Regions from separate parts of the Homo sapiens genome. Here all the other regions are linked to region 1. Evidence: fine-mapped expression QTL. A gene starts in region 1. Each other region holds a variant in brackets. All regions are shown on one strand. Distances are between the middles of the regions. Region 1 holds the start of ANO5 (anoctamin 5). Region 2 overlaps LOC124902645 (a long non-coding RNA gene). Region 3 overlaps LOC124902645 (a long non-coding RNA gene).

Region 1 (2,667 bases):
TTCTTTTTTTCTTTTCTTTACTTTCTTTTGAGACAGGGTCTTGCTCTCCATCACTTAGGCTGGAGTGCAGCGGGATGATTGTGGCTCTATGTAGTCTCAATCTTCTGGGCTCAAGCGATCTTCCCACCTCAGCCTCCCGAGTAGCTGGGACCACAGGTGCCTGCCACCATGACTGGCTATTTTCCAATTTTTTGTAGAGACAGGGGTATCCCTATGTTGCCCAGGCTAGTCTTGAACTCCTGAGCTTTCAAGCGATATCGTCCAGCTGAGATGATGACAGGCGTCATCCCAGCTGGACTATAATATGGGTTAATCTTAATAGCAGCTAAATGTTTAACACATTCTGTGGCAAGGACTGTGCACCGTGCTTCTCTCAACAGCCTAGGAGGTGGGTACTATTATCATTCTCCTTTAAATATGTGGAAACTGAAACTTAGAGAAACTTGCCCCACACTATCCAACTCTTAAGGGGCAGAGGCTGACTTGGAACTCAGGCCACAAGGGATGACCTTCCCCCACCTGTAGAGGGCAGAGATCCTGCTGGGAACCCAGGAAGCAGGCAGGGCCAGGAGAAAAGTCAATACTCCCGCTCCAGACGCTATGGGGAAGGGGCTGCTGGCACCTTGGAGTCTCGGGCCATGAGCCGGCCTTAAAAGGGAGGGGTTCCTTTAAGGGAGAGGGACTTTTCCCCACGAGACCAAAAGTAACTCCCAACTGGGAGAGGGGTTCTCTCCGAGTGGCACGCATGAGCGGATCGATGAAGACCCGGCCAACCGGCTGAGGGAGCATCGGGACCCCCTTTGGGGATCGGAGGAGGAGGATTCCGACAGGAGGGAAGCGGCAGCCCTGGGGAACCAGGATTCCTGGTCGTGGGTGGACCCAGTGGAAAAGGACGTGCGAAGCCTGTACAGAATGGAGCAGGCCGGCCAACAGGGCCGGGGGGCGGCGGGTCCCGAGGAGGGACGGGAGGCTGCATGTCCGGAGGAGGTGCGGGAGGCGGCAGAGCAGGGACCTGGGGACGGCTTGAGCGGAGAGGAGGGGGCCAGCGTGGAGCCAGCCGGGCCGGGGGGCGGGGAGATGGCGGTCTCCGAGGGTGGGGCGCCGGCCGGTCTTGCGGTCTGGAGGCGGGGAAAGAGGCGTGGAAACAGGGACGCAGCGAAGGGGAAAGGAAAGCTGCCAGAGGGCAGGAGTGGAAAGGATCCTGGCGAGCACCGGGAGGAGTGGCGGCTGCGGGATCAGCTGCCGAGCAGGCACAGGGACAGGTGCCTGGAGAAGTACTGGGAGAGCGCCCAGGAGCGCTACCGGCTGAGGGTGGGGAAGCGCAGGGCCAAGCGCGCGAAGCAGGTTGTGGGGGACCGGGTCGAGTGGAAGTACCCGCCGGAGAGGAAGGCCGGCTGGCTGTGGCGCCCAGAGACGGTGGAGTCCGAGGAGGAGGAGAAGGAGGCCTGCAGAAGGAAGAGCAGGCCCTTAGAAGTCCAGCAGCAGCAACTCCGGCGGCCCACAGTCAGATTCAGCACCTGCCTCAGATCTCCACGTCTGTCTCAGCTGCCCCTCTCCTGCTGCCTCTCAGGCACCAGTGCCATTAACGAGCTGGCGAAGATGGGCGACCCGGATCTCCTGGAAGTGTTGGCGGAGGAAGGTAGGACCGCGCCAAGAGGCGTCAAGGGAGAGCCAGGCTGGCTGCCTGCACCCCTCCACCCGCGGCGCAGAGGCCCCGGGGGACGTTGGCGGCCCTGCGGCCTGAGTCCTAGGGAGGTTCGCTGCGTGGCGTGCTCAGCGCGAAACCGGGACTGCGGGGCAGAGTCCCCCGCCTGGGGTGAGTGGGGTTGGTTTCGGCGCCCCACAGATTTCTCTGCTGCTCCTGCGCGCCAGGGACCTGCGACCTGTGACCCCTATGGTTCCGGAACACCCTCCTTGCTCCCCTGCAGGCCTGGGAACCGCCGAGTAATTCAGGGCTGCTAGGCTAGCGCTGCAGTGCTTGGGTCTCCGAACCCAGCCAATGGAAACGAAGGCTTTCCCAAAAAAAGCAGCAGTATAGAGTGCAAGACAGCTATCCCACGTGTAAGGAGCTGGTCCTTGAGTCTTATTACCTCACTCTCTCTGCCCGTTACTTATCATGCTTTGAGATGCTTGTTAATTGTAGGAGTAGCAGATCCTAAAATCTATCAGTTTGAGATACTGAGAGCCATAGGCACTTGGAAAAGCTGCTGCTGCTGCTGCTGCTGTTGCTTTTCAACAGCTTTCATTAAGCCCTTTAGTTCCGTTGAGAAATATTTATCCATTGTTTGCCAAAGCCTTTACACCACCTGTATTCCGTGGACCTATTTTAATACATGTATTTTCCTTAAAATGCACATACTATTTTGCTGCTATCTCCAGGACCCCAGTTCCTTCAATGATATTTTATTTTCATGTCTTGTTTAGTGTTGGATTTAAACACAGAAACAGTTTTCCAAAGTGACAAAAGATCTGATCATTACTATTCAGTCTTCAAAGGCACCGGGAAATACCGTGTGTTACTGCATCCTCCTCGTTCCCTTTTTTAAGCAGCTTTATTGAGATATAATCTATATACTGTAAAATTCACCTATTTGACGTGTAAAGTTGGATTTTTTTTAGTGTATTTACAGAGTTTTGTAACTATCATCATAATCTAATTTTAGAACA
Region 2 (2,806 bases), 30 kb before region 1:
AAAGGTTCCGCATGCTTGCATTAAGAATCGGATTGGGGGTGGCATTATAAAACTAGAGTGATTGCTCAAAATCTATACCTTGCCCTCCTTTAAATTATGTAGCTACCCAACCTTAAATTTAAACATAAAATTTATAGGCTGGGCACAAAGTGGCTCACGGCTGTAATCCCAGCACTTTGGGAGGCCAAGGAGGGTGGATCACTTGAGGTCAGGAGTTCAAAACAAGCCTGGCCAACATGGTGAAACCCCATCCCTACTAAAAATACAAAAAAATTAGCGGGGCGTGGTGGCAGGCAACTATAATGCCAGCTACTCTGGAGGCAGAGGCAGGAGAATCACTTGAACCCAGGAGGCAGAGGTTGCAGTGAGACGAGATCATCCCACTGCACTCCAGCCTGGGTGACAGAGTGAGACTCTGCCTCAAACAAAACAAAACAAAACAAAACAAAACAAAAACCATAAAATTTATAGTATGTAGTTAAAGAAATAAGGCAAAAAGGAGAGAAGACACTACCATTCAGTTGATTTTGTGTACTGTAGATTAAGCAAGCTGTGAAAAAGGCAAGGACGGTGCATAAAGGCCTTCTATCTCCTGCAATCCTCCTCCAGCCCTGCTCTCATTGCCCTCAGCTTCTGTTCAGCTGCCAAGTGCCAGCGTTCCCTCAACTTACGCCAATCCACAACCTCTCCACCCAACAACATACTTCCCCCAGCCAGCCATGTAGACAAGTAATCAGCCAACCCATGCTGGTGTATCTCTTACTTTATAATTGTCACTCCCTACCATAATTGTCTCCTTTTTTTTCTAATCCTAGGAACATTCCCATTTCTTACCTATGTAAGAAATTCTTGGCTGTAAATAATAAGTATATGATTTACCTTATGTAAGGCTAAGAGTCAGGTTTTGGAACTAGGCAAACTGCTCTGCTACTTATTGTGTGACATTAAGTAAATCACTTAACCTCCCTGAGTCTTACTTTCTTTATCTGTAACATGGAGATAATATTACTGTCTTCACTGGGTTTTGTGAGCACATAGTTTCTGCCCTGAAAATATAGTCATTGTTGTTGTTGTCACTTTAAAAAAGAGAAAATTGTTCCAGAAGATAACTCATTTTTTTTTTTAACAGCGGTTTGAAGTTGCATGATCTTGTGGTTAAAAAAAAAAAACAATGATACTACACTGGACTGGAAGATTTCAGATCTAGTCCCTGCCTCACTTCCTCATTGTGTAACAGAGGGCACTAGAGACACATTGCC[G/A]AAGAAGGATTTTCCTTTCTGGTTCTGATGAGCTGGCTCAGAAGCCCTCTGCAGCCCACACAACTTCTCCCATGCCCAGCTGTTTCAGTGAACTGCTTCTCTAGTGCCCAGTTCCTGTACCAAGTACAGCTTCCCCAGAGCCTAGCTCCTGCAGCAGACAGTTATCAGGAGCACCCAGTAGGCAGCAGCTTCCCCTGCCATCCGCTCAACCAGGCAATTTTGTATTGGAATGCCTCAGGCAAGACAACTTCTGTGAACAACTTTTTCCAGTCTCTAGAGTGTAGATTTTCTGTAAGTTTCTAGAGGGCAGATTTCCAGCAGTTTCCACTAGTGAGGTGCCACAGCAATTTCTCTGCCATCCAATGAACCATAGCAGAGCCTTCTCCCAAAAGATCTGGGTCTCAGCCTGGGAGCTGGGAGTGGATCTTCCTTGGCTGCTGTATCTCAGCCTATCTCAGTCTGGGAGGTACTGGCTGCTCTTTATATTTGCTACTCCCGTATTCCTTAGAATTCTCTTTACTTCTTAAGAACCAAACCCTTATTGTGCCAATCCCTTTTTATAATTAATAATTCTTTAAATTTTTCCCATTCAAATTACCATGTAGTTTTTGTCTTCTGATTGGACATTGACTGATACACTCAGAAATACTATTATTTCCAGAATGCTATTGTTAAGAATGAGATCTTTTTTTTTCCTTTTTTTTTTTTTTTTTGACACAGATTTTCGCTCTTATTGCCCAGGCTGGAGTGCAATGGTGTGATCTTCGCTCACTGCAAGCAATTCTTCTGCCTCAGCCTCCCAAGTACTTGTGATTGCAGGCATGCACCACCACGCCCAGCTAATTTTGTATTTTTAGTACAGATGGGGTTTCACTATGTTCAGGCTGGTCTTGAATTCCTGACCTCAGGTGATCCACCCACCTCGGCCTGCCAAAGTGCTGGGATTACAGGCATGAGCCACCGCGCCCGGCCTAGGAATAAGATCTTGTAATTTCACTGCTAAGCCTCTCTAAGGAGCATTGTTTTGGAGGTGAGACGTCAGAAGAAAGTAACAAGGCTTTTGGAATGGCAGAACCACATGTGAAAGACACAAAAACCTTCACTTAGAATACAAAACAGATATGCATAGAGCCCAAAGTCATCTAAATAATCAAGAGGGACATTCATAAGTTTTATTTGGTTTTGTACCACTTAGAGTTAGCTAGACTGCAAAGTTAAGGTCACAGTCCTCTAGACTGCCAAGTCTGCCCAAGACTTTTGAAACAGACAAGTTTGGGAGGCTCCCAGAATCATCCCCAGAATCATTCTTGGGCTCAATAATTTGTTAGAAAGACTCACAGAACTCACTGAAAGTTATTATACTCAAGGTCACTTTTATTAAAAGGAAAATATACAAATTAGAACCAGACAAAGGAAGACACACAAGGCAGAGTCTTGGAAGGATCCAAACAAACACAGGGCATCTAGTCATCCTTTCTCCAAGGAGTCAGGGATGGACAGGGTTACCTCCTTCTGGCCACAAGCTATGGCACTACACATGGGTATTG
Region 3 (2,806 bases), 37 kb before region 1:
ACAATAACTAATATATCCAAGCCAGCTAGCCAGACACCTCTCAAAGAGAAATAAATGATTAGGTCCCAGCGGCTTGAAAGATCATGAATGGTAATCATGTCTAAAGCAAAAATTTGAAAAGTCCTCAGGGCCAAGTGGGCCATATCTGTCTCATGGGGTAAATAGTGGGCTTCAGATATTAGGCAATCGTTAATGTCTCTGCTCTTTCTAATATCCCCTTCCTCATCCTTCTTGCTAAAGTAGTATTTTCCAAAGGGAATTTCATGGGATATCACTTGGTATCCTAAAGAAAAACAAGAGAGAGGGGGTAAGAGGCTCTATAATTTTTTAGGATATGCTGAATCGAATAACAATATGGTAGAAACAACTAGTGGGTACCAGTCTTAATACCTGGCTGATTAAATAATCTGTACAACAAAATCCTGTGATATAAGTATACCTATGTAACAAACCTGCACTGATACCTAGGAGATTAAAAGTTAAAACAAAACAATATAGTGAAAACAGATTCTTCCCTGAGTCTTTAATATACCAACATGACAAGTGTTCTGGGAATTTGCATAAGGCGATAGCTACAGTAGTTCTCAATGAGGTTTGGTACCATCCTCCAAGGATCATAGTATTAGTCTGTTTTCACACTGCTAATAAAGACATACCCAAGGCTGGGTAATTTACTTTTTTATAAAACGTTTTAATTAACTCACAGTTCCACATGGCTGTGGAGGCCTCACAATCATGGTGGAAGGCGAAGGAGGAGTAAAGGCACATCTTACATAGCAGCAGGCAGGAGAGCCTGTGCAGGGGAACTGCCTTTTTTAAAACCATCAGATCTCATGAGACTTATTCACTATCATGAGAACAGCATGGGGAAGAACCCGCCCCCATGATTCAATTACCTCCCACCAGGTTCCTCCCACGACATGTGGGGATTGTGGGAGCTACAATTCAAGATGAGATTTGAGGGGGTAGGGGGGCAGAGCCAAATCATATAAATCACTTATAAATGTATTAAGTCAATTTTGATTATCATGATGATGAGAACCTTTACTTGCATTTAAAGTCCAGAGAACATGGATGCTAAATAACGTGCAATATTTGGGGATAATTGCAGAAAACAAAGAATTGTCTGGCTGTAAGTGCTAGTAGCCTCTTGTTGACATCAGCAAAGACTGCAGCATTTCCAAAAGGAATTTGAACAAAGAGCCTTCAGTTTGGAGTGAAACTTGTGAGACTACTATTTCCTGGAATCCATTTTGGGAAAGGTAGCTTAAGATACTTACTTAAAGACTTAGTTATAGCACTAGTCACCACCCACCACCACCTATGAATTTCTTTTTTTAACTGGGACTTGGTGAAGACCCAGATTATTTCAATCCCTTTAATCAAAGTGAAATGAAGGCAGTGGAAGGGAGAAGCGTAATTGTGGGCAGAAATCCTGCCTCAAATACACTTAGGCGGAAAACCGCTTTATCTCTTCAGAGCATTTGTGGCTACTTCTCTT[C/T]CCTGAAGCATTAAGAAGACTCCATAAGCAAAGCCCTTCCACATCATAGGACAAATTGCTGAAGTGAAAGAGAGCTACCCTCTACTTACTGGGACTGGTGTGAGGACCTTAACCAAGAAAAGAAGATACTGAATTGTAAATGTACCTAGGGGAATAAAATCTGAGTCTTACAAGTGCCTAAGAAATCAGCTTGTGGAACTTCCCAAACTTCCACATCAAGAAGTCTTTTCCTCTCCATTTTCACAGAAACTTCAAATTGTTACCCTTTTGATACTTTTTCCCCACCTTCACTGCTATTTCGATATAATTCATCATCTGATTTTATCATTAAATATTAAAAGGATTTTCAGAGAGTGTAAGGAGGTATAAACAACACATGTGATAAACATACTCTTCTCACCCCTTCCCCAAATAATAGCTATTAAGTTCTGCACCTAATACAAAGCTATTTAGCTGGCTGAACTTGGGAAAATCACTAATACTTTTGGGAATCTTGGTTTTCTTGTCTCTAAAATAGAGTTACTAAAAATGTTCACTTTACAGGGTTGCTGTACACATGAAATGAGATCATGTTGCAAAAGGCTTTTGTCCTGTTGCACAATTAAGTGATCAATTGATGGTAAAGCTGTTATTTTTATTATTAATAGACATGAAACCGGTCTTCTAAGTCTTCGTTCAGAGTTCTTTGGCTACCTGAAATTCTCAAGAAGACCGTGCTGCTTCCAGATGTAGCTGAGAAGGTGGCTTTTCTAAACTTCTCAGGCAGCACTGGTGCAAGCAGACGGCAGCTGCAGCCTACTAGCCTGGTTTCTTATTCACCTTCTCAGGTTCCTTCTTCCACTCCCTTCTCCATCAGTTAAGATTTCCCTCAAGAAGGCACAGTAGCAGCAGAGGCCACCAAGTTAACAACTTTTCTTCTCCAGTGTTCAGCTCTGTGGGATTTACTGTTCCACTTTTTTAATCTGAACTGATCCTCAGGGTAATTCATAAATAGCATTATATTTGTTAGTCTTTATTACCTGGCCCATTTGGCAGTTTGCAGGTAATATTGGCATAACATGACTCTATACAGGAGAGTGAGGGATCCACAGTCAGAATTGACTAGAGCTCTATATAGCAATGAGGCCACTCCTCTCACTTATATTTCACAAGTAGGAAACGTAAGGTCTAGAGGGGGCACTCATTTGCCCAGGCCTCACCATGGTAAGTAAACTGCAGAACTGGGTCTGGATCTGGTTCTCTTGGCTCTTTCAGAGTACAGAGAATACTATTTTGATTGTACCTTAGTACCTCTTCTAGCCATAA

Evidence for each region.
Region 2: its variant is fine-mapped to the expression of ANO5 in whole blood (TOPMed, PIP above 0.99).
Region 3: its variant is fine-mapped to the expression of ANO5 in whole blood (TOPMed, PIP above 0.99).

What each region holds. Positions count from the first base shown.
Region 1 is chr11:22,191,894-22,194,560 of GRCh38, forward strand. ANO5 (anoctamin 5) reads left to right here and starts at 1,192. Exons shown (of 22, transcript NM_213599.3): 1 at 1,192-1,639. The coding sequence starts at 1,600. RefSeq lists enhancers at 350-439, 670-729, 760-829, 1,480-1,569, 1,820-2,009 and a silencer at 1,010-1,059.
Region 2 is chr11:22,162,285-22,165,090 of GRCh38, forward strand. All of the region lies in intron 1 of LOC124902645 (a long non-coding RNA gene), which reads right to left. Among named protein-coding and RNA genes, the nearest start is that of ANO5, 29 kb to the right of the region's middle. The variant G/A (reference allele first, on the strand shown) is at 1,260.
Region 3 is chr11:22,154,717-22,157,522 of GRCh38, forward strand. All of the region lies in intron 1 of LOC124902645 (a long non-coding RNA gene), which reads right to left. Among named protein-coding and RNA genes, the nearest start is that of ANO5, 37 kb to the right of the region's middle. The variant C/T (reference allele first, on the strand shown) is at 1,502.